2 separate regions of the Homo sapiens genome follow, and region 1 is linked to region 2. The links come from fine-mapping of genetic effects on gene expression. A gene starts in region 2. The other region holds a variant in brackets. All regions are shown on one strand. Distances are from middle to middle. Region 1 overlaps AGTRAP (angiotensin II receptor associated protein). Region 2 holds the start of DRAXIN (dorsal inhibitory axon guidance protein).

Region 1 (8,900 bases), 58 kb after region 2:
ACTCCTGACCTCAGGTGATCCACCCACCTCGGCCTCCCAAAATGCTGGGATTACAGGTGTGATCCACCGCGCCCAGGCTGGTTGCCCATTTTTATAGTTATTTCTTGATAGTATGCTAACCAAGGGGTGGATTATTCATGCCTCCCCTTTTTAGACAATATAGGGTAACTTTCTGACGTTGCCATGGCATTTGTAAACTGTCATAGTGCTGGTGGGAGTGTAGCAGTGAGGACAACCAGAGGTTACTCTCGTGGCCATCTTGATTTGGGTGGGTTTTAGCCGGCTTCTTTACTGTAACCCGTTTTGTCAGCAAGGTCTTTATGACCTGTACCTTGTGCTGACCTCCTGTCTCATCCTGTGACTTAGAATGCCTTAACCATCTGGGAATGCAGCCCACTAGGTTTCAGCCTTATTTTACCCAGCTCCTATTCAAGATGGAATTGCTCTGGTTCATACGCCTCTGACGCTTGGAAGGGGTGTGGGTGTCAGCTGCCCCATGGGAGGGGTGAAGGCATGAAGCGGCCCCTCCCTGGCCTGGCCTGCTTTCTTCCTCCTCCTTCACTCCTGGGCCACCTGCAGTTGCTGGTGTGCCTTTTCAACAGACATTACTGAGGCCCTCAGAGGTGCCAGGCGCAGGGGCGTCCTGTGTTTTCTGCACCCGACGCTTTCCTGCCCCTGTGGTGGTCATGTTCACAGACCTCTTCTCTCCCCCTTGTTGTGCCACAGGTGATTCTCCTAGGTCACTGGCTGCTGACAACCTGGTAAGTGACTCTGTGGGTATCTTGTGTGTCTCCTGCGGTCTCAGGGTCTGTGTCAGCCGGGTCAGGTCCTGGTTCTGCCGTGTTTTAACCAGGTCACTTTGGGCCAGACAGCTCTGCCTCTCCGGGTCTTGATTTCCGTCTGTACAATAGGCATAAGGATTGCACACCCTGCAGGAGCTGGGAGGGAGACGTGGAAGTGCTCATCAGAGCTCCCCAGGGCCTGCCCCACAGTGAGGCCTCAGCACTGCAGCTTGATTTTCACCTTTACCATCTCTTTTAATCTGTTGAGCTTCTGGAGACATTTCTCTGCCAAACCAAGACTGGAAACCATTGAGCTCACCTGTGCACTTTGCAAACTTCGAAGTGCAGCGCACAGGGCAACAGCTGTGAGTAATGTGAACTGTAACCATCATGATTCACGACCTTGAGAAGCAGGGCCAAAATACAGATTTCTTAGTCACACTTCCCCAAGATTCTGAGTTGGTGATTCTGGGCTGGGACCCAGGCACCTGCTTTCTTAAAAGCAAAAGATAAGATGGTTTATTCAAAGACCTATTGAACCGAATGGCACTCCACACCTGCCTTGCACATGTCTTCTGCATGTTACACTTTAGTGAATGTCCTATAAATCTAGGAAGCGCCCGCTGCATGCAGGGGAAGGCAAGGCCCAGTGGGTTTGGTAATAAATGAGGTAGACTCAGTCCCTGTCCCCCTGAGTCTTCCTTGCAGCACAGCAGGGTGAGCAAGAGCATGGCCTCTCCAGCCAGACTCCAAATCCCAGCCCCACTGCTCAGCAACTGTGTGACCTTGGGCGAGTTACTTAACCTCATTGTGTCTCAGTTTCCTCATCTCTAAAGTGAGGGTAACAATAATACTTCCTTCCTATGGTTATTAACATAAATGTACATGAATGAGTTAATTTAAAACAGAACCATGCTAGGTACTAGCAAGTGATCGGTGTTCACTATGATTTTGATTGGATTGACAAGTAAGTCAACAATGTCAGTATCAGTACCCTAAAAATAGAATAGGGCGGGCCTTGTGTTAGGAAAGTGACGAACTTGTACTTAGCACCGGTGGGCAAGGGAAGGAGTCTCAGGGTGAACATTCGAGTCTCAGGGTGAATGACAAAAGGAGGGCCAGGTGTCAGGGTAGAGGGCGCCCGCCGCACAGGGCAGTGGCTGGGAGGTCAGTAGGGCGAGGCTGTGTCCGGGATCCCACAGGCCCCTTAGGCCCTGGTGAAGAGTCTGCATTTTATTCCAAATGGGACAGAAAACTGTTGGAGGATTTTTAGCAGAGGAGTGACAGCATCTGACTACGTTACCGGTTGCTGTTTAGAGAACAGAGTGGCAGTCAGGACGCTGGCACAGGGTGGCTGCGGCTGTCATCTGCCAGGAGAGGGAGGTGCTTTGGATCTACAGGGACACAGCCAGATCCAGGGTCTGGGTGGGAGGCGGAGCCCATGGGATTTGCTGGCACACAGCCGGGTGGCCTCGAAGACTATGGCATGTTCTGGGAGGAGGCCCTGAGACGCCGGAGCAGGAGGGAGGTGACCTGCGGGGTGGTGGCCTCCTGACGGGACTGAGCTACCTCTTCCTACAGGGGCTGCATTGTATTCTCAGGCTCCTATGCCTGGGCCAACTTCACCATCCTGGCCTTGGGCGTGTGGGCTGTGGCTCAGCGGGACTCCATCGACGCCATAAGCATGGTGAGCCAGGGTGGGGGAGAGGCGGCAAGGCGGGGAGCCGCAGCACAGGGCAAGACATAGCCTGGCTCTGCTACCCCGTCCCATCCCAATCTTCCCCCTCTTCCTTGGGCCACCACTTCCCATTGTCTAAAGCCTGTTCATCAGCCTCCTGGGCTCCGGCCCATGCCTGTGTTCAGGAGCCCAGCCTGCTGCTCTTCTTGTCTGGCTTAGAGAACCCCAAGTCTGCCATTATCTCCCTGAGGAAAGCCATGGGGTGGGTCCCACCAGTGCCTCGGATTAGCCACTTCGCAAGAGCAGTGGAACATCCCCTGTAACCTCCCTCTGCGGCTCTCTTTTAGGGGAGGGGATATGGCTGGGAGACCCGGCCAAGAGGGCATTTCACTACTTTAGGAAGTAGAGGTGACCCTGCCCCACCGAAACCTCCCACAGGGGGAGCTTCTCAGCACCCACGGAGCCCCGTGGGGCAGTGAGCACTCCCGCACGGGCTCTTCAAGCCGAGGCCAGGGCCTCAGGATGACTGAGAAGAGATTTTCTTTGTGTTGGAGAAGGACTGGGTGAACTCCAAGGAACCTTCCTCTATGGAGGTTCTAGAGCCAAGTCTTGTGCCCATCATGGCCTTGGAGATGACGGGAAATGGGTGGGGAGGGAGGCTCTGGTGGAACCGAGACCTGGGCCCCCGGCATCCCTGCCCCCAGACTGCAGTCTCAGCCAGCGGCTCCCCAGCGGGGCCCTGCCTGCTTGCTTGATCCATTTTCCCGCAAGCCCCAAGGACACAGCAGGGCATGAAACGGCTTCCCATCCGGTGTGTGGCGGGGGAGCCACGGAGCGTGGTGGGGGTGTTGTGCTCATCAGTGTGGTGTGTCTTGCAGTTTCTGGGTGGCTTGCTGGCCACCATCTTCCTGGACATCGTGCACATCAGCATCTTCTACCCGCGGGTCAGCCTCACGGACACGGGCCGCTTTGGCGTGGGCATGGCCATCCTCAGCTTGCTGCTCAAGCCGCTCTCCTGCTGCTTCGTCTACCACATGTACCGGGAGCGCGGGGGTGAGCTCCTGGTCCACACTGGTGAGGCCACCACCTCCAGCCAGCTCCTCACCGCTCCCTTCTCTCCCTTGCCTGGCCTCCAGCCTCTCCCTCAGTGAGCCAGCCTTGCCCCATGGGGCCAGGGCTCAAGGTGCAGGGAGAGCGTGGCATGGGCGCTCTGTACTAGGCTGGACAGGTCCAAGCTCCTAGTCTCTGCTGCAGGAGCCCAGGGGTCCCCTGGTTGTCCTGGTCTGCCGTGACCTTCTTCTGCTGTGAAGCTGAGGCTGGGCCCTTCTCTCAGCCCAGAACACAGGCACAGCTGGGGGTACCATTTAGTTCCCAGGGGCAGCCCTGGGCTGTCTCCATCCTGAGGGCCACGGGCACCTACAGGTCTCCTCTCTGTTCTCACCGGGGCCCATCACTGGAACCCCATTTCCTGCCACATGGGGTCTTCCCTCTCCTGCTGCAGAGACTGCTAGGTGGCCAGGGCAGAGCCCGTGCCAGTGTAGGCTGTGGGAGCCTCAGTGAAGACAGCCCTGAACAGGGGGCACTTTCCCTGCCCACCGGCCCCTCCCCACTCACCCAGCCTTACACCTGCCCTCTCCCACGCCCTCTCTGAACTCCTGTACTCCTTCTCCTGGTGGCCGAGCCATTTGCCTGCTCTCTGACACCTCTCTCTCTCTTCCTTTCTCTCTCTCTTTGAGAGGAGTGGAGGGAGGTGGTAGGGTGTGGCCTTCTGCCTTTCACTCCTGAGATGAGATGCCCCACGTGGCCTG[T/G]GACTGCCACCAGCTGGTTGAGGGTGGGAATGGCCTGGGGCTGCCCACAGTGGCTGACCTCAGCACTGCCTGGGCCTGCCCCCAGGTGAGGGGTGCCAGAATGTTTCTCCCATTGGACAGATGAGGAAACTGAGGCCCACATCCTTTGGGACTTGTTCAGGGTCCCGGGATGAATGTACAGAGTAGGGGATGGGAGTGAGGCATGTGGCGTACTCGGAGCCCTACGGCCCTGCCTTGGACCCAGCCCCAGCCTCCGAGGCCATCTGGATATGGTAATGTGGTGTCCTTGTACCTGGGAGGGGAGCTGGAGAGGAGTGCGTGGGCCCGGGGCTGATGTCCCTCTGCCCAGGTTCCTAAGCACGTGCTGCCTGGGGAAGCCCATGGCACAGGGGCCAGGAGCCTGGCTTTGGACTCGGCTGCCTAGGCGTGGGTCCCAGCATCATCAGCTTTGAGCTGTGTGATCTCGGGCAAGTCACTTCATCCCTTTGACCCACAGTCTCCTCATCTGTAAAGTGGGGACAATAAAAATACCCGTCGCACAGGGATACGGCAGGATTGAATGAATAATACACGCTAAAGGTTTAGGGCCTGGGGCTGCTGCCTCTGTCTCTGTGCATGGTGTCAGGATGCCCAGCCCGAGGGTGGCGGGGGTGGATCTTGGGTTGGACTCAGCTGAACATCCCGAGTTCTCACCCTTCATTTTTCTTTCCCACCATGTCCCCTGTCACCTAGGTTTCCTTGGGTCTTCTCAGGACCGTAGTGCCTACCAGACGATTGACTCAGCAGAGGCGCCCGCAGATCCCTTTGCAGTCCCAGAGGGCAGGAGTCAAGATGCCCGAGGGTACTGAAGCCAGCCACGCTGCGCCCGGCCCTGCCCCGGGCCTTCCTCGTGCCTGGGAGGTCGTTCTAGGGATGCTCCTGACCTCCGTCTCTTGGACCTAAGATGGAATGTGTCCCCAGCTCAGGGATTGCCTGAACCAAGAGGCCAGGAGCCCCCATGGGCCGCCCAGTACCATGCACACTCCTGTCCCGAACTCCCTGAGGCCTCCCCTCCCTTCAGGGCACCCACTGGTTCCCAGGCTGGAACCAGGGTCTCTCTTTACCTCCTACCCCATGGTGGCACCACAGAGGCCCTCAGCCGAGTCCTGCCTGAGTGTTGCAAGCTCAGGCCTTTAAGGACTGCTGATGCCCCCTCAGGCCTCCCCCAAGTTTGCTGGGCTTTGGTGGAAGCCCTGAGAGCTTCAGGTCCTGCTCAGCCCGAGGAGCAGTCTGGCATGGGAGTGAGGCCCCGTCCTTCTCACTGCCTGGTCACATGGTGCCTAGGGATGCAGGGCTGGAGGCCAGAGGTGTCAGCAACACTGTGTCCCACCACAACCTCCAGCCTCCCTTTTCAGAGCACAGCATTAAAGTTTGGGGAATTCTGTAGATGGGCTGTGTTTTGAACCACCTTCAATCTCCTGGCTGGGCTGGGGCCTGGCCTTGTTCCTGGGAAGATGTCTCCTGCCAGTTCCCAGGTGGAGCCTGTGCTGTGCTGCCCCATTCTGTCATGGCAGGAGGAAACAGGCATGTGCGTTGGCTGAGCTGGGCTTGAGCCTGGCTCTGGCCTAGCAGAGGCCACAGGAGAGAGAGACACTGGTGGGTGTGGTGCGTGGGCATCCGTTTCTCTGAACCAGATGACCCAGGCACTCTTTGGAATCCTGCTCTGCCACTTACTAGCTGCATGCCTTCAGTGTCTTCTAGAAAGGGTTGGTGCCTGCTCCAGGTGTGAAGTGCCTGGCGTGAGGAGGGCTCCCTAAGTGATGGTGAACTTGTTAGCAGTGGACCTGCTCCTCAGGCCAGTGACGATGCTAGGTTAGGAGGCAGGGGCGACCTCTTCCTGGTAGCCCCTGTGTCTGGTCACAGCTGACTTGGGCTGACACGTCCAGAAGTTCCCCAGGGCCTCGGCCCACCCCACGGACAGGTCTAGCTATTCACAGCTTGCTCTTCTGCCCCCTGGGCACCAAGTGCCAGGGCTTTCCCAGGCCATCCTGGCTTGTCCCTGGCACAGGGTCAAGGCCTAGTGCACAACTCCCATTATTCTCTTGCGTCCATCTGTCAATCAAAAGAGGCTCAGTACCTGCCTGGTGCCGAGCGGGCTTGGGGCTGCAGTGGTGACCTTGGGAGCCTGCTCTCAACCTAGGAGTCTTCCCACCTGGAGGATTACAGACAGAGGCAAGAGCCCCGAAAGAAGAGGACATGGGCCTCTGGGTCAGGGAGGAAGGCTGCTGTGGGGAAGGGGCTGTGCTCCGGGCAGAGGGCTGCTGAGCAGCTGCAGTTGTGAGAAACTGGAAACAGCCTCACTGTCGGGAGACGGACCAGTAAGCCACGGTCCATTCATTACAGGGAGTATGGACCAGGAAGCCACAGTCTATTCATTGTAGGGAGTATGGACCAGGAAGCCACAGTCTATTCATTGTAGGGAGTATGGACCAGGAAGCCACAGTCCATTCATTGTAGGGAGTATGGACCAGTAAGCCACGGTCCATTCATTATAGGGAGTACGGACCAGTAAGCCACGGTCCATTCATCGTATGGAGCACAGTGCAGCAGTTACAGCTGTTAAACCAGACCTATTTCCACCAACGTTGGCCCCCCGCAAATGTGAACAAAGCAGATTGCAGAATGGCATTGGGATGAATTTTCAGACCTCACAGCAATGCCATATGTTGTTCCTGGGTGTATGTGCGGTAAAATAGAAAAGCATGGACTAGAAGGACACCTGTCAGGTTCATGACTGTAGCCACCCTGGGTGGAGGAGGAGCGTGACCCGAGGGGAATGGGACTAAGACCCAAGTCCGTTTATCTTGTGTATACAGCATCCTGGCCCCGGGAAGGCTTGTGTACCTGCGTCGTGAACGTGTCAGATTCCCAAAGGGAATGAAAAGCCAGGGCAGGGGCTTGGCCCAGGCAGTGGGGGCAGATGATGCAGCCTGGGCCACGCACAGGGGAGTGTATCTAGACACCTCAGTCCCTCATCGTCCCAGACCCCCAGGTTGAACCGGCTCTTTGCGGGAGAGGACAGAGGAAAGCTCCTGTCTCAGAGTGTACCCCAGAAGCAGAGCCTGCGATGAAAGCAAGGGTGCCAGGCTTTCCAGTCATTGGCTAGGAGCTGCTCAGGGAGTGGGAGAGGGTGGCTTAGATTTGCAGGCACTGTGCCACCCCCCGACTGTGCAGGCAGTCGGGAGCCGGAGGGCCATCAGAGGCAGACAGAAACGGTGGAGGAGGCAACCATGTGGCTGCCCCTTCCACACAGCGGCCTTAACAGGGAGAGCTTCTAACATACAACAAGCGCCCCAGAGCCCACTGTGAGTGAGGCCGTGTTCCAGAGGCAGGGGATGCCAGGGTGCGGGAAAAGTCACCCAGGGGCATTCCATTTAGCATGAGAGGTTCTTGGTGACAGCTAACAAGGCCTGAGGCAGAGAGTGGCTGAGCAGAGAGGGTGGGGGAGGGAGAGAAGAAGACAATGAGGTCAGAAGGTGGCTGGGGTCAGATGTGCAGGCTTAGCAAGTCATTCTGAGGACTCCAGTTCTGGCTGAATGAGATGGGAGCCCCTGGAGGGTGTTGGTCAGAGCCGGGCAAGGTCTGCCTTATATTCTTTTTTTTTTTGAGACGGAGTCTCCCTCTGTCGCCCAGGCTGGAGTGCAGTGACGCGATCTCAGCTCACCACAACCTCTGCCTCCCAGGTTCAAACAATTCTCCTGCCTCAGCTTCCTGAGTAGCTGGGATTACAGGCATGCGCCACCACGCCCAGCTAATTTTGTATTTTTAGTAGAGATGGGGTTTCTCCATGTTGGTCAGGATGGTCTTGATCTCCTGACCTTGTGATCCACCTGCCTCGGCCTCCCAAAGTGCTGGGATTACAGGCGTGAGCCACTGCGCCTGGCGTTTTGTTTTGTTTTGTTTTGTTTTGAGACAGAGTTTCGCTCTTGTTGCCCAGGCTGGCGTGCAATGGTGCAATCTTGGCTCACTGCAGCTGGGTTCAAGCGATTCTCCTGCCTCAGCCTTCCAAATAGCTGGGATAACAGGTGCCTACCAACATGCCCAGCTAATTTTTGTATTTTTAGTAGAGATGGGGTTCACCATGTTGGCCAGGCTGCTCTTGGACTCCTAGCCTCAAGTGATCTGCCCACCTTGGCTTCCCAAAGTGCTGGGATTACAGGCATAAGCCACTGCACCTGGCTTGCATTCTAAAAGGACCATGTTGGTGGCTTGGATGGGGGCAGTGGTGGGGGTGGTGACAAGTGGTCAACTCTTGGACACTCTCTGAAGGCAAAGCAGCAGGACCTGTGATGGGCTGGATAGAGGATGCAGAGACAAGCCCGGGACTGTGAGGTGTGGGCCTGACTGGAAGGCTGGAGCTGCCGCTAGCCAGGAGGGAGGACGTGGGAGGGCAGGTCCAGGATGAGGGCAGGTCCAGGATAAGCCCAGGACTTCAGCCATGGACGGGCTGCACTGTGCTAACGAGGCTTTCCAACTGGACATTCTCACCACTGTGCAACTTTTAAAAGGCCCATGTCTGTAGGGACTTGGAAGTAGGGCACCCTGCAGGTTTATATAGTGTCTGACATTCTTGAGGCTGTCAACCACAGGAAG
Region 2 (16,100 bases):
TGAGGATGCAAAGGCATAGGAATGATATATTGGACTTTGGGGACTCGGGGGGAAGGAAGGGTGGGAAGGTGAGGGAAGGGTGGGAAGGTGAGGGACAAAAGACTACATACTGGGTACAGTGTACACTGCTGAGGTGATGGATGCACCAAAATCTCAGCAGTCACCACTAAATAACTTACCCATGTAACCAAAAATTATTGCAATTAAAAAAAAACGTCAGCTGGGCACGGTGGGTGGCTCACGCCTGTAATCCCAGCACTTTGGGAGGCTGAGGCTGGTGGATCACCTGAGGTCAGGAGTTTGAGATCAACCTGACCAACATGGAGAAACCCCATCTCTACTAAAAATACAAAATTAGCCAGGTGTGGTGGCGCATGCCTGTAATCCCAGCTACTCAGGAGGCTGAGGCAGGACAGTCACTTGAACCCGGGAGGCGGAGGTTGTGGTGAGCCAAGATCGCACCATTGCACTCCAGCCTGGGCAACAAGAGCGAGAACTCCATCTCAAAAAAACAAAAAAAGTCTGGGTTTGGGGCCTTGGGTTCAGATCCAATCACAAACAGAAGGAAGGTGGGTTAGGAAGCAGATGGGGAGGGATTCAAACCCATCTGACCCCAAACCCCTAAAAGGCTTCAGTCTCATTAGTGAAATGAACAGGCCAGATAGATGTTCCCTAAACCTCTGATGGCCTCAGGTTCCATGGGGGCGGGGGCAGGGGCAGGGGGCCGAGTCAGCATGGGCCCATCCGGGGAGCTCTGCCAACACTCCATCCATGCGCTCTTCAGCATCTGGTTTTGCATATCTTAATCGCATCAGCATGATGGATGGTTGTGGGATCCAGATTACATTATGGGGTTAATTTATTACATTTTTGAACATCCGTCTGCTGGGAGACTGTTGTTCAAAGTTATTTGCATATTTTTCACCATAATGACAATATGTAGGAGGGCGGCTGGGAAGGAAGGATGGGTGTTTAGGGGGAGCAAGAGTTTATTTGCCAACTAGAGCAGGTCCCTGAGGATCTCTGATGGGGACGGAGGGAAAATCACTCCCAAGAGACACTGAAATGGAAACTGAGAAGGTGAGCTGTGAGCACCAGCCCAGCAAAGAGGAAGACCTGCTCGGGCAGAGGAGGACTGCTGGGGTTTATGGAACAAACCCACAGTGAGTGAACCGGGCAATGAAGTTTCCAGACCCCAGAAATGATTCCAAGACCCCTCCCATCCCCACCAGGCTGATGGCAGAATGAATCAGCTCTCCCACCCTGCCTAAGGTTCCCAGGACACCAATCACATGGGTATGGGGGACATACAGAGTGAGACACACATAGCCTGGTGACAATCTCCTGATATCCTGACGCTCAGGGGCCCATCCAGTTGCAATGCTCCGGGGCAGGGACCCAGCCCTCATTCATTATTTCAATATAGTGCCTGGCCAAATTCAGGTTCTCTCTCTCTCTCTCTTTTTTTTTTTTTCCCAGAGACAGGGTCTCTCCTTGTCACCCAGGCTAGAGTGCAGTGGGGCAATCATAGCTCACTGCAGCCTGAAACTCCTGGGCTCAAGGGATCCTCCTACCTCAGCCTCTTGAGTAGCTAGGATTACAGGTGTGCACCACCACACCTGGCTGATTTTTCAAATTTTTTGCAGAGGCAGGGTCTCCCCATGTTGCCTAGGCTGGTCTCGAACTCCTGGGCTCAAGTGATCCTCCTGCCTCTCACCCTCGCAAAATGCTGAGATTACAGGCTTGAGCCACCATGCCCAGCCCGAATTCAGGTTCTCAGCAAATGTGTGTCAAATGAGTGAATGAAAGAATGAATGGCAGAGGAATGAAGTGATGGTGGACAGTGGCTCATTACCACTTGCCTGACTTGAATCCCAACTGAGTCTGGATGAGGAGCAAAACACGTCGACTTCAGTGCCCGGGCTATGGGTGGCACTATGCAGAGAAAAGCTATTTTCAAAAACAAAAGCAAGGGCTGTGGCATGTTCCCTATGGTGTCCCCAGCACCCACTGGGCCTGCTCATGTGTCCAACCTGCTGCTTCTCTCCCCAACACTGCCCCTTAACCAGCTGCGAGGCCCTTCTTTCTCTGAACCTCAGTTTGCTCATCTGTAAAATGGCATAATGGTAGTTCTAATTTCATAGGATTGAGCAAAGAGCAAATGTTTATGTCCATGTTCATGTTTATAAAAAATATAAAGTGCACAATGCCAGGCATGGTGGCTCACGCCTATAATCCCAGCTTTTTGGGAGGCCAAGGTGGACGGACCACTTGAGCTCAGGACTTCGAGACCAGCCTGGGCAACATGGCAAAAACTCTACAAAAAATATAAAAATTAGCTGAGCATGGTGGCGTGCACCTGTATTCCCAGCTACTTAGGGGGCTGAGGTGGGAGGATCACTTGAGCCCAGGAAATCAACGCTGCAGTGAGCCATGTTTGTACCACTGCACTCCAACCTGGGTTATAAAGTGAGACCCTGTCTCAAAAAATAAACAAATAAATAAAGTGCACAATGCCTGGCACATAAATGCTCAATTAATGACTGTTATGACAATGATATTAAGGTCTATATACACTATTTAAGCCCCCAGAACAAACCCTCTGGACAAGCTGTCACACTTTTCAAAACCCCATCCAAACCATCCTTAGCGGCATCCCCATAGCTCCATTTCCATTTCCCAAGGCAGCAGGCAACTCCCAAGGTGCCCTAGGGAGGACACGCATCATCACGGAACAAGATGCCTAAAGACAAGGACTTCCTGCTGACAGCTCCTCTCCGCTCTCATCTGCCTTCTGGTGTGAGGCCTGACCTGGACAGCTGTCCCAGATCCCAGGGTTCACTGCTGACCTGAGATGGCTTCCGACACTTCAGCCAGAGCAAAGCCCTCACCTGCCATTCCCTCCGTGGGGTTCTACTGATTCCCAGTGTTGCTGACCCCTCAGTGGTCAGGGGGACCTTACTGATCATCTGCTCTTTTTTCATAGAGACAGGGTCTCGCTGTGTTACCCAGGCTGGTCTTGAACATTTGGCCTCCAGAGTTCCTGCTTCAGCCTCCCAAAGCTCTGGGATTACTGGCATAAGCCACCGCGCCTAGCTAATTTTTTTGTACTTTTAGTACAGACGGGGTTTCGCCATGTTGGCCAGGCTGGCCTCGAACTCCTGACCCCAAGTGATGTGCCCGCCTCCACCTGCCAAAGTGTTGGGATTACAGGCTTGAGCCACTGCGCCCGGCCCAGAGACACTAAATGCCTTACACAACATCAGGAGTGTCCAGATATATTCAGAAGCCATCCTGGGCCACAAGGTAAGAACTTTTGATCCAGCTCAACTGCCACTTTAAAAAAAAAAAAAAAAAAAAAAAACTTCTCTGTGGAGATATAATTCACAAACCATAAAGTTCACATTTTCCCTGGGTACAATTCAGTGATTTTTAGTATAGTTACAATGTTGTACATCGCTACTCTCTAATTCGGAACATTTTCATCACTCCTGATGTCTTGAGAAGGGTTGTTCATGCCCAAAGTGTGTTGCCAGGTACATCAGTTCCAAAACTACTAATCTACTTTCTGTTCTATGGATTGTCCAATTTTTTTATTTTTTTATTTTATTTTTTGGAGACAGGGTCTCACTCTGTCATCTAGGCTGGAGTGCAGTGACGCAATCACAGCTCACTGAAGCCTCAACCTCCTGGGCTCAAGCGATCCTCCCACCTCAGCCTCCCCAATAGCTGGGGCTACAGGTGTGCACCATCACACCCAGCTAATTTTTATTTCATTTATTTCTTTTTTGAGACGGAGTCTCTCTCTGCCACCCAGGCTGGAGGGCGGTGGTGCAATCTCGGCTCAATGAAATCTCTGCCTCCCCGATTCAAGCGATTCTCCTGCCTCAGCCTCCCGAGTAGCTGGGACTACAGGCGACCTCCATCACGCTTGGCTAATTTTTAAATTTTTAGTAGACATGAGGTTTTGCCATATTGGCCAGGCTGGTCTCGAACTCCTGACCTCAGGTGACCCACCTACCTTGGCCTCCCAAAGTGTTGGGATGACAGGCATGAGCCACCACGCCCAGACTAATTTTTAAAATTTTCTGTAGAGAAGGGGTCTCACTATGTTGCCAGGCTGGTCTCCAACTCCTGGCTTCAAGAGGTCCTCCTGCCTCACCCTCTCAAAGTGCTAGGATTACAGGCATGAGCCACTGCGCCTGACCTGGACTTGCCAATACGGAACATTCCATATAAAAGTAATTGTACAAAATATGGTCTTTTATGTCTGGCTTGTTCCACTTAGCATAATGTTTTCAAGATTCATCCAGGTCGAATCACATATTGATACTTCATTCCTTCGTAGAACCAAAATACTCCCGTGTATGGATAGACCACATCTGCTTATCCAGTCATCAGTTGATGAATATTGGAGCCTGCTTTGGCCCCTCAAGTACCTCATTTTACAGACAAGGAAACTGAGGCCCTAAAGTCATCATAAACTGGATGGGATAGGAGTCCAGGCCTCTCCTAACATCCACCTTTTCATATTGTGTCACCCCAGCTCCAAGCACATCGGAAGATCACCCAGCCAGGGGACAGCCACAGTAGCAGCATTTGAACCAGAGACTCCAAGGTTTTTCTCCTGGCTCATGAATACTGGCCCACAGCTCTATCCTTGGCGACGCAAATCATGCTGGCTGCACACTGCCCCCTCTCCCAGGCCCAGGTGACCATCATCTCTTCTCTGCCACAGTACTTAGCTGGTCTCTTGCTTTCACCCTTGTCCCACTGCAGACTACTCCCAACCTTAGGAATCAGCACACGTGGCCGGGCACGGTGGCTCATGCCTGTAATCCCAGAACTTTGGGAGGCCGAGGCTGGCGAATCACCTGAGGTCAGGATATCGAGACCATCCTGGCTAACATGGGGAAACTCTGTCTCTACTAAAAATACAAAAAATTAGCCAGGCATGGTGGCAGGTGCCTGTAGTCACAGCTACTCAGGAAGCTGAGGCAGGCGAATCGCTTGAACTTGGGAGGCAGAGGTTGCAGTGAGCCAAGATCGCGCCACTGCACTCCAGCCTGGACAACAGAGCAAGACTGCATCTCAAAAAAAAAAAAGAAAAAGCAATCAGCAAACCTGCTAAAAACCTAAGTCGGATCATGTCTCTGCTCTGCTCATGGTCCCTCTAAAAAGCTCAAGTCCTCCCTGTGGCCTTTGCAGGCTCACATTGTTAGAGGTGTCTGAACCAGAGCAACCCCATCTTGAGTAGGGGCTGGGTCAAATGGGGTTGGGACTTGCTGGGCCATATTCCCAGATGGCTAAGGCATTCTAAGTCACAGTATGAGACAGGAGATCAGCACAAGATACAGGTCATAAAGACCTTGCTGATAAAACAGTTTGCAGTAAGGAAGCCTGTCAAAACCCACCAAAAGCAAGATGGCCACGAGACCAACCTCTGGTCATCCTCACTGCTCCACTCCCACCAGTGCCATGGCAGTTTACAAATGCCATGGCAACATCAGGACGTTACCCTATATGGTCTAAAAAGGGGAAGCAAAGGCCAGGCACACTGGCTTACCCCTGTAACCCTAGCACTTTGGGAGGCCAAGGCAGGCAGATTGCCTGGGGTCAGGAGTTCGAGACCCGCCTGGGCAACATGGCGAAACCCTGTCTCTACTAAAAATACAAAAAATTAGCTGAGCATGGCGGTGTGTGCCTGTAACCCCAGCTAACTGGGAGGCTGAGGCATGAATCGCTTGAACCTGGGAGGCAGAAGTTGCAGTGAGCCGAGACTGTGCCACTATACAAGCCTGGGCAACAAAGTGAGACTCTGTCTCAAAAAAAAAAAAAAAAAAAAAAAGGCTGGGTGCTGTAGCTCGAGCCTGTAATCCCAGCACTTTGGGAGGCTGAGACAGGTGGATCACCTGAGGTCAGGAGTTCAAGACCGGCCTGGCCAACATGGTGAAACCCCATCTCTACTGAAAACACAAAGTTAGCGGGCATGGTGGTGTGCACCTGTAATCCCAGCTACTCGGGAGGCTGAGGCAGGAGAATTGCTTGAACCCGGGAGGTGGAGGTTGCAGTGAGCTGAGATTGTGCCACTGCACTCCAGCCTGGGTGAGAGCAAGACTCCCTCTCAAAAAGAAAAACAAAAGGCGGGGGGAGGGGAGAAGCATGAATAATCCACCCTTTGTTTAGCACATCATCAGGAAATAACCATAAAAATGGGCAACCAGCAACCCTTGGTGCTGTGCTGTCTATGGAGTAGTCATTCTTTTTATTCCTCTACTGTCTTAATAAACTTTTTACTCTATGGACTCGCCCTGAATTATTTCTTGTGCGAGATCCAAGAACCCTCTCCTGAGGTCTGGGTCAGGACCCCTTTCCTGTAACAACATGGTCCTATCCCAGCTCCCTGTCTGATGTCACCTCACTCTGTTCCAGACTGACTCTTCTCCACCAAACACACCAAGCACACTCCCGCTCCAGGACCTTTGCAGTGGCTCTTCTGCTTGCAAGTCTTCTCCCCACAACCACGTGGCTCATTACCTCCTTTTCTTTGCCAAAAGAACTGCCCCAGCAAAGAGGCCTTTCCTAATAACTTTATGTAAAACAACACCTCGTCCCTTCATGCTTTGTCTGTAATGTGCTTTACTTTTCTTCATAGCACTAATCACCACCTGACATCATTTATATTTATTTGTTCACTTATCTTCTGTCTCCTTCACTAGAATCTGAGCTCCATGGGGGCAGGGATTCTTGTCCATGTTGTTTACTACTGTACCTCCGGTGCCGGCACATAGTAGGTGTTCAATAGGTATTTATGGGATGGATGACTCAAACCTTTCAGTGAATAAACAGTTCAGTGTTCTCATCAATCCATCCTGGTGCCCACCAAGCTAATAATATCACGGTAACAATGGCAGCTAATTTTACAGGAGCATTTCCTATGGGCCAGACCTTAGAAACGTTATCTCCTTACACAGGGCACTGCATTCACGCCTAGAACACTGAAATTTAGGTATAATCATGAGCTCAGAGGTCAGGCGACTTGCTCGAGGTCATAGGGGACGGCATCAGAAGAGGAACACAGACATTTAGCCTGACGGCAGAACTGTGTTCTAAAACCTCAAAGTCATAATTTGCCACACGCTGGAGAAAGAAAACAGTCGAAATGGAAGCCACCTGGCGAGCTCAGGGCGCCAGGTGGGAGCGCTGCTTCCCACATATGGGAGTCCGGCCCCATCGCTCTTTGATCTTTGCAGCGTCCGTGGCCCCACCGACCCCGTCGTGAGTTATGGGAGGCACGGGACCCATAACCCAGCATTCTCAGACTCCCAGGGTCGTCAGGACACGGCGCCCCGCGCGGTGATGGATGAGCCGGCCCCAGCGCTGGCTTTGTCCGGGTTGGGCCGGTCTGAGAAGCTTCAGGCCGGCTTTGGACGGGGCGTGGCGAGAGCCGCGCCGCGTGTGAGTGTGTGTGTGTGTGTGTTTGTGTGTGTGTGTATTGGGGCGGTTGTCTTTCTCCCTTCCCTACCGGGAAAGAGGGCACAGGTGCGCCGTCAGCGCCCCAGGTGAGCTGGTAGCACTTTGAAGACCCTTTGTACCCCTACATCCAGGAGCGACCTCTCGGAGAACCCCGCCTGCCCACTCTGCGCACTTTCTGCGGCTACAAAGGCCCCGCCGTTCCCCGTCCCGCCTCCCCCGCCCTGGGCATTTCTTCCGTCCCTTTTGACAGTCTAGGCGGAATAATCCTTTTGTGGCCCCGGGCCCCTGCCCTGACAGACGCGGCCGCAGCTGAGCGCGCAGCCTCGCTCCATTGTTGGGGTCCACCGAGGACCGCCCGCCGCGGCCCTTTGTCGCCCGCCCTGCGCGGGGCCGCTCCAGAGGCGCCACAACTGCCGGAGCCCCTCCCGTCCCACGCGCCCTGGGCCGCGCCGAGGCGGCTCTTACGCACCGGGAGGAGTGGGCCTGCCTCGCCCGGTGCCCGCACGGCTGCTGGGCTGCGCCCGCCTTTGTCTGCCTCCTTTGTCTGCCCCGCGCCCTCGCGGCGGCGGCGCCTAGGCCTCTGGGGAGCTGGCCCAGAACTCAGAGCGCAGCTGGCGAGGGCGCGCTGGCCGGGTGCGCGCCGGGCCCGGCCCCGGGGCTGCCCCTCGGCTGGGGGCAGTCGAGCCCGCCACCCGCCGCCCCTCCTCTGTCCCCTCCCCGCGCTCCCGCCCCCTTCCCTCCTGCCCGCCCACTCCCCCTTCCTTCCAGTCCCGCTCAGCCCGGGCACATCCTCCGGCTGCCCGCGCACCTCTCCACGCCGGCCCCGTTCCGCGGCTCGCCCTCGGCTGCGCTCGGCTCCCGCGGGCGCTCGGCCCCGAGCCCCTCCTCCCCCTACCCGCCGGCCGGACAGGTAAGGCACGGCCTCGGCCCGCCCCTGGCTCCGCCCCTCCCGCCCCACCTGGCTGCGAGCCCGGACAAAGGTGGGCTACCTGGCGCGCCCAGGGGCGGGGTGCGCGGGGTCCCGAGGCTGGAAGTGAGGATGCTGCCTCCTTCCCAGCCCTCGGACCCGTCTATCCGCCAGTCCTTCCGCCGCCTCCTCTCCTCGCCGCGTCTGCCCACGGACCCTGGCTCTGCTCCCGGGCTCCCCATCCGTCCACCTACCGCTGGACGCCCACTTTTCCACGCTCTGACACTCGGCCTCGCGCGCGCCCTCGCCGCCCTCTGGGGTCCCGGCTCGCACCTACTCTCCTCGGCACTAGCCTTCTCTCTCCCTGACCCAGTCTCCCTTTGTCTCTCTGTCTCTGAGTCTCCGGGTGGTCTCTCAGGCAGGGGGCCCCAGTCCGCCACCGTTGGAAGAAGTCTTCGAAGACTCCCTGAGCCCCGGGCAGAGCTGGCGGGCGTGCCCTCCAGCCCCTTTCGAGGCCGCCCAGGAGGCTGGGGTGTGTGGCCGGGGTCGCTGAGTGCGCCCGGAACCAGCACCGCCGGTGGCCCCGCGCCGTCCCATCTGTGCCCAGGAAGGTACTCAGCCTGGCTCCCCCGACGGCGCTGGTCTTTCGCCTGTGGTCTCCCGCTCTGTCCCTCCTGCTCCCCACCGCCGGCTTTTGGCTTTTCTCCGTCCGCTCGTCAAGGGTCTCAGCCGCCTTCGGGGCCGGGGTATGAGATGAGAGAGGGCTGGGGTTTCCCGCCAAGTCTTTCTTGCTTTCCTCAGCTGGGTGCTCCCTGGGCCATCCTCTCCGCCCGGTGGTCTCCCCTGCCCTATATGCTCCCTCCACGCTGCCCACCTCCCAGCCCAGTGACACACTGGTGTCTGGAACCGGTTCAGTACTATGCATCTGGAGTCGGGTACACTGGGGCTCTGGGAGTGATCTCGGACAAAGGAATGCACCTCTCTGAGCCTCAGTGTTCCTGTCACAAAACAGGGATGGTGCTAGTCCCTACCTATAGGGATGTGTGTGGAAATTGTGGGGTGCCGCTTGGTGCTGGTTCACACACCCTGTGGAGGAAGGGAGGGGAGGGGAGGGGAGTCTACAGACCTGGGATGGGGTGGGGACAGGGGGCTCCACAGAAATGGATCTCAAAGTCAAGGCTTAGAGACACTTCAGAGTAACCCCACCACCACAGCCTCTTCCCCCATCACACTTCCTGTCACCTTCACCTCCTCGTGCCCATACAGGCGTCCACACCCTTGCAAGCACTCTTCTCTTTCTCTCTCTCCTCCTCTTTGCTTGTCCTAAAATCAGCTAAAACAATCAGGGCCAATGGGTCACTTTTTTTCAAAATGAGATCAGTGTGGCTGAGCTGGTGTTGCCAACAACTGATCACCCATCAGAAGGCGTCCGGTGACTCACCCCCAATTCTGAACCTCAGTCTTGGCTTGATGCCTTTAATAGCGGCACCAGCTCACAGGCCACTTCCTTTCCTCTGAGGGGATTGTCTTGCTGGCTCCTGGACCTGCTGTGTGCTTGCCCAAGCCCCCTGACCACTGTCTAGGTGGTCATAACATGTGACACACCACTCCAGGAGTCTGGCAGTGACGTGGCCTGAGTGTCTTAATGAGGGCAACTTCAGAAGAGGGAAACCTCCCAGCTGGCAGGTTCCAGGCTCCCCTGGCTGAGTTCTTATTTCAGCCACAGCCAGGGCTGGCAACTGGAACCTTTCTCTTTAGAGGCAAGAACGGCTGGATATCCCCACGACATCCCCCATCCAGGCTCCTGCTCGAAATCCGACCTGGCAGACAGGCCCTACTTTGGTGAACCCGGCCCTTCATACCATCTCTACCCCCTGCCTTCTGCAGCAAAGCCAGCTCAGAGGCTTGGGAACCTTGCTCAGGTCCTCTCTGCTCTCTCCGCTGCCTTCCTCCCCACTATTCAATTCATCGCCCTCCCAGTCCATAGTCCTCAGTGGCTCACTGTGGCCACTCAGTTAACTACAGAGACCTCAGCCCAGCCTAGCCCTGTCCTGCCTGCCTCCCAGCATTGTCCCCTCTGCGTCCCAGGTTGCAGCCACGATGGAGAACTGACCATCTCCACAGTCTGCCCTCCTCTGAGCTTTTGCTAGGGCTCTTTCTGCCCTGCCCTGTGTTTGATCTCAGCCCTCTGTCTTTGCTGACCAAGGAGGTCTGATGTCCTCTCCTGTGGGAAGCACCCCGGCACTCCCTTGCCTCCCTAGCTCTTGTGAACTGCACGGCATAATCCCTATCTGGGAGGGGTCTGCTCCTCCCTGGGTGGGGGCTGGGTCTCCTTCTGCTTGTGGTCCCAGTGCCTGGCACGCAGTAGGGGCTCTGTGCACACCTGTTATATTGAATGTGATTCCTGGTCAAAGGCACAGGAATGAACTGAAAACTGCAAGCCCCAGTGTCTTGCTGAGTTCTGCTGGGTCCTGCTGGTGGGGCCAGGGCGGAGCTGGCCCTCTGGCTGGGGAGGTTGGAGGGGGAGCAAGCTGCCCGGAAACCCCTGTGATACTGAGGCCCTGTATCACTCTGGAAAATGAGGGTGGTCTCTGTGCCTGTTATAGGGGTAGAAACTGAGACCAGAGAACGAAGTGGCTCACCCCAGCCGTGCAGATTGGGTTTGAAGCCCAGCTGATCACTTAGCAGCTGTGGGACCCAGAGGGAGTTCCTTCACGTGTGTCGGCCAGGAATGTGATGGAGCAGGGACTTGCATCCCAGCCTCCCCGAACTTCCCTCAGAGGCATGAGCATGTTCCTGGGGGGCAGGTCATAGGAGCACCCCTGTTCTGGCCCAGTGGGTTGGAGCTGCCTCCCTCTTGCTCCGCTGGCCCTCTCTGCATGCCCTACTCCAGCCTTCCTTCTCAGGGGTGAGTCGCTGTGGCCAGTGGTCCCCAAGAAGAAGAAGGTTGTGGGAGGATGGCTGAATCCTTGCCAGTAGAGGCTCTGCCACCCCAGGTTCCAGCTTGACAACGCCCCATGCCCCAACACCATGACCCACCCATGCCCCAACACCAAGACTTCTCTTGATGGGATGGGGTTGAAGGGGTGGTTATGAGGGATGAGGCTCCTGCTAGAACCCAGAGCAACTGGAAGGAGCTCATTGCAGGACTTAATGGTTTTCAGGTGTACCAGGCTCTGGGTCAGGCCCCAGCTCATGCCACCTTCCCTGGGACTCACAGCAGCTGCACTGGTGTTGGTTACTGGATGGCAGCATGAGGAGCAGTCTCGGCCAGGAATGTGATGGAGCAGGGATGATGAGTCTGAGGAGTCAGATGGCTGTGGGTTCGAATCCCAGCTCTATCACTTGCTCTACTAGGCTATCTTAGGCAAGTCCCTTGGTCATTGTCTTAATGTTCCTACACAGCCATTGTTGCTATTACCATCTGAAAAATATTATCCACTTCAGGCCAGGTGCAGTGGCTTATGCCTATAATCCCAGCACTTTGGGAGGCCGAGGCAGCTAGCTCACTTGAGGCCAGGGGTTCGAGACCAGCCTGGCCAACATGGTGCAACCCTATCTCTACTAAAAAAAAAAGATACAAAAATTAGCTGGGAAGTGTGGTGCACGCCTATAATCCCAGCTACTTGGGAGGCTGAGGTAGTAGAATCACTTGAACCCAGGAGGCACAGGTTGCAGGGAGCAGAGGCTGCAGTGAGCTGAGATTGCACCACTGCACTCCAGCCTGGGCAACAGAGTGAGATTCTGTCTCAAAAAAAAAAATATATATATATATATATACTTCAAAGGGTCAAGTTAAATAATGCCTATAAAGCTCTGGGCCTAGAACCTAGAACAGTAGATGATACCCAAACAAACACAGAGCTAAATGGTCTAGGTACCAAGATAATGAAGTTTGAGGAATATGGAGGCTGAGGGTTGCTTCCCCCACCCACAAATTGCCTAGGAGAGGAGGAAGAGGGGCCACAAGTACCTATAATCTAGCAGGAGGTAGGACTCGAGTTCAGCAGGTGAGCGGGGAATGCTGGAAGCTGGAGGCCTTTGAATGGGTGGGGCCTCTGATGAACTCCCGCAAAGCCCCTGTACAGGTTTTTAAGGTGTGAGGTCTGGGGTGGGTTGAAAATCCCAAGGCTGCTGTCGGAAACAATAAAAGCAGATGGAGCTGCCCCTGCAGGGAAGCCAAACCTCATTTGCCAGGACAATGGTCCCCTCCAGGCTGGCCTAGGACAGTCCTGCCCTGCCATCGATCACCCCACTGAGGACAGAGGACGCAGCCACCTGCGCCTGCCCCTTTGCACACCCAGGCACAGATGCACAAATGCTTCCAGGAAACTCCCTGGCCCCCACCACACCCATGCCTGCCACCTTACTCCCTCTGTCTCCCCTTCCCATAGTAACAACTACTGTTTATTTCACCCTTCTGTGTCCCATTTACTTTATAAACATTTACTCCCCAGCCGGGTGCGGTGGCTCACGCCTGTAATCCCAGCACTTTGGGAGACAGAGGCAGGCGGATCATGAGGTCAGGAGTTCGAGACCAGCCTGGCCAAGGTGGTAAAACCCCGTCTCTACTAAAAATACAAAAATTAGCCGGGCATGGTGGTGGGAGCCTGTAATCCCAGTTACTCGGAAGGCTGAGGCAGGAGAATCGCTTGAACCTGGGAGGCGGAGGTTGCAGTTAGCTGAGATTGTGCCATCGCACTCCAGCCTGGGCAACAAGAGCAAAAATCTGTCTCAAAAAAACCAAAACAAAAAACACTTTGGGAGGCCAAAGCGAGCAGGTCACGAGGTCAAGAGATCGAGAACATCCTAATCAACACGGTGAAACTCTGTCTGTACTAAAAATGCAAAAATTAGCCGGGCGTGGTGGTGTGCACCTGTAGTCCCAGCTACTCGGGAGGCTGAGGCAGAAGAATTGCTTGAACCCAGGAGGCAATGAGCCTCCTGGTTTCAGTGAGCCAAGATCGCGCCACTGCACTCCAGCCTGGTGACAGAGCAAGACTCTGTCTCAAAAAACAAAAACAAAACAAATCAAAATAGCCAGGCATGGTGGTGCATGCCTGTAATCCCAGCTGCTTGGGAGGCTAAGGCAGAAGAATCACTTGAGCCCGTGAGGCAGAAGTTGCAGTGAGCCGAGATCGTGCCATTGCACTCCAGCCTGGGCAACAGAACGAGATTCCATCTTAATAATTAAAAAAAAAAAAAAAAACAACTTTTACTCCCCAATCCTCATGACAGCTAACATTTTACAAGAGAGGAAACTGGGGCCCAGAGAGGTTAAAAAACTTGCCCAGGTTGTCTAGCTCCTTCTGCTTTGCTCAGTGAGGGCCCTCCCATGGGTCAGCTTAGTGGGTTTGGGCTGACATCTGTGAGCTGGAATCGGTAGTAGTGATGTCTGGGCCTCCACCTCTCATTAATGAGACCTGTGGCCTCTCACCCGGACTGTCTCCCTTATCAGTGGGGACACCTGGAGGCAAGGACTGTGTCTTTGCTGGCAGATCAGCAGCTCCATGTTCTGGGACCCTCCCAAGGCCAGAGTTGTGCCTCTCCTATCAGATTGGCAAATTCCTGAGGACAGCAACTGTATCTACCCTGCTAGATGGGAGGCTTCCCCAGGGCAGGGGCTGCTTCTGGCTTAGATTGAAAGCACTCTGCAGCCATGGGCTAGGTCCCCTAATAGTCATAGAGTCCTCTAAGGCATGACCTGGTTCCCTCCTATCCCAATGAGCCAGGACTATGTGTCCGCCCTCAGACTGGTGGTTTCCAGGAGCAGAAGCCAGGTCTCTCCCTTCAGACTGGAGCAGGTGCCCTTGTCTGGCATCCTGGTTCTGCACACAGAGGGGCTCAGCTAGTGGCTGACCACCGGGATTCACTCTCCCCTGCGATCTCCATCGCAAGGAGGCAGCAGTCCCCAGCAGAGCAAAAGGCAGAGCTCTGTGCCTGAGAAAGACCCGTGGAGGGGTAGGTGGGGCTCTGGCTGCTCTGAGGCCTAGGGGTTGCTGAGAGGCCCCTTCCTATTGGTCAGGTGACACTTTGGGCGATACAGAGCCACAGGGAGGCAGGGAGATGGGTAGGGACTAGTCCAGGATGATCAACGCACCAGTATGCCAGTGAACACCCAGCAGGGCAGCTGCTGTGAATCCCACCCGCCCCATCCTCTATGCCACCTGCACTGCCGGGCTCCATCCATACCCGGAACACCACCACCACCCACCCACACACAAACCACACAGAAGCACTGACTTCCTAAGTAGTCAAGTCTCATGGCAGCCTAATAATCCCATTTCACAGACAAGGGAATAGACTCATGAAGGGAGGAGATGTTGGGAGGGATCAGGAGGGGGGTTAGAACACTCTCGTTTCAAATTACCTTGGGAAGAGCTCAGCCCAGGAATTAATTTAGAATCCATACAGTTGTTCCCCAACTCTCATGTAGGATATGACTGTTTTGACTGAACAAGAAAATTACCCACTTTCCAGCCCTAGGGGTGTCAGCTCCACCTAAACAAGACAGAAGTCTGCTCCTAGGGGGCCGGGGCTCCAGGAAGCCCTAACTAGATCTGGGGCTGACTGCAGAGTGGCCACACTCTGCTAAGAGCAGATGGGGCTTCCGGACTGCACTGCCCATCTCCAATTCCTGCCGTTTCAGGAAGTGTCCATGTGAGTGATGAGGAGTAGCCAGAGGGAAAAGTTGGGCAGATCAATCTCAAGTTAAAGCAATTGCTGGGCCCGGGACTCACGCCTGTAATTCCAGAACTTTGGGAGGCCAAGGTGGGAGGATCACTTGAGGCCAGAAGTTCAAGACCAGCCTGGGCAACATAGGGAGAGACCTCATCTCAACTAAAACTAAGAAAAAATTAGCCTGGCATGATGGTTTGTGGCTGTTGTCCCAGCTACTTAGGAGACTGAGGCAGGAAGATTGCTTGAGCTGGAGAGGTTGAGGCTACAGTGAGCTATGATGGTACAACTACTCCAGCCTGTAGGGCAGAGCAAGACTCTGTCTACAAACAAACAAAAAAGCAATCGTAAAATCTTCCTGGAACTACAGAGACATAAAACCTGAGATGATTCCTGCATTCAACAAAATCTCCTGAATCTGGGGATACAATTCCTCCCCACAGAGCTCCTAGGTTGGGAGTATCCGGAAGGGAAGATTTTGCCCCTAGCTCCTGGAGACTCAGTCCACACCCTACTGGATATTGTCTGTCACCCCTCCCCATAGGGGTCTGACAGTTGAACAGACAGACAGATGGAGGAGTCTTATCGTCATAGATCATAAATTCTCAGGCTCCCTTGGCAGACAGGGCCTTTGGGACCACCTAATCCAATGGCCCAGTGGTCCTCCTCCCCTACTCCCTGCCAAAAAGAAATGTTTTGAGTAGTGCAAATCTTTTCCCAAATGAAATTCGATCCGTAATCCCAATACATAAAATCAACAAAACAGTGTTTTATAAGCAGTGTAGCACTCCACCACCACCAAGAATGCCTTTCCCCAAATCAAAAATGTCTCTATTTTATGCAGACACAACACACCTTTAAGCCCTACTTGCGATCAGACTAACTCTCTTTGGCTTCTCCCACCTAGATTCTGTGCGACCACTGCTTTGCCCCAGTTTATAATAATTACTTATTTTAATTTTTGTTAAAAAAATTTTTTTTTAGAGACAGGGACTTACTATGTTGTCCAGACTGAATTCAAACTCCTGGGCTCAAGGGA

The links.
Region 1: its variant is fine-mapped to the expression of DRAXIN in whole blood (TOPMed, PIP above 0.99).

The regions. Positions count from the first base shown.
Region 1 is chr1:11,745,077-11,753,976 of GRCh38, forward strand. It overlaps AGTRAP (angiotensin II receptor associated protein), which reads left to right. Exons shown (of 5, transcript NM_020350.5): 2 at 727-761; 3 at 2,364-2,469; 4 at 3,339-3,534; 5 at 5,001-5,693. The coding sequence ends at 5,116. Among named protein-coding and RNA genes, the nearest start is that of C1orf167, 13 kb to the right of the region's middle. RefSeq lists enhancers at 3,109-3,785, 3,786-4,462. The variant T/G (reference allele first, on the strand shown) is at 4,269.
Region 2 is chr1:11,683,468-11,699,567 of GRCh38, forward strand. It overlaps DRAXIN (dorsal inhibitory axon guidance protein), which reads left to right and starts at 8,243. Exons shown (of 7, transcript NM_198545.4): 1 at 8,243-8,386. It also overlaps a transcript of MAD2L2 not described here. RefSeq lists enhancers at 1-227, 1,177-1,677, 6,541-7,050, 7,051-7,558.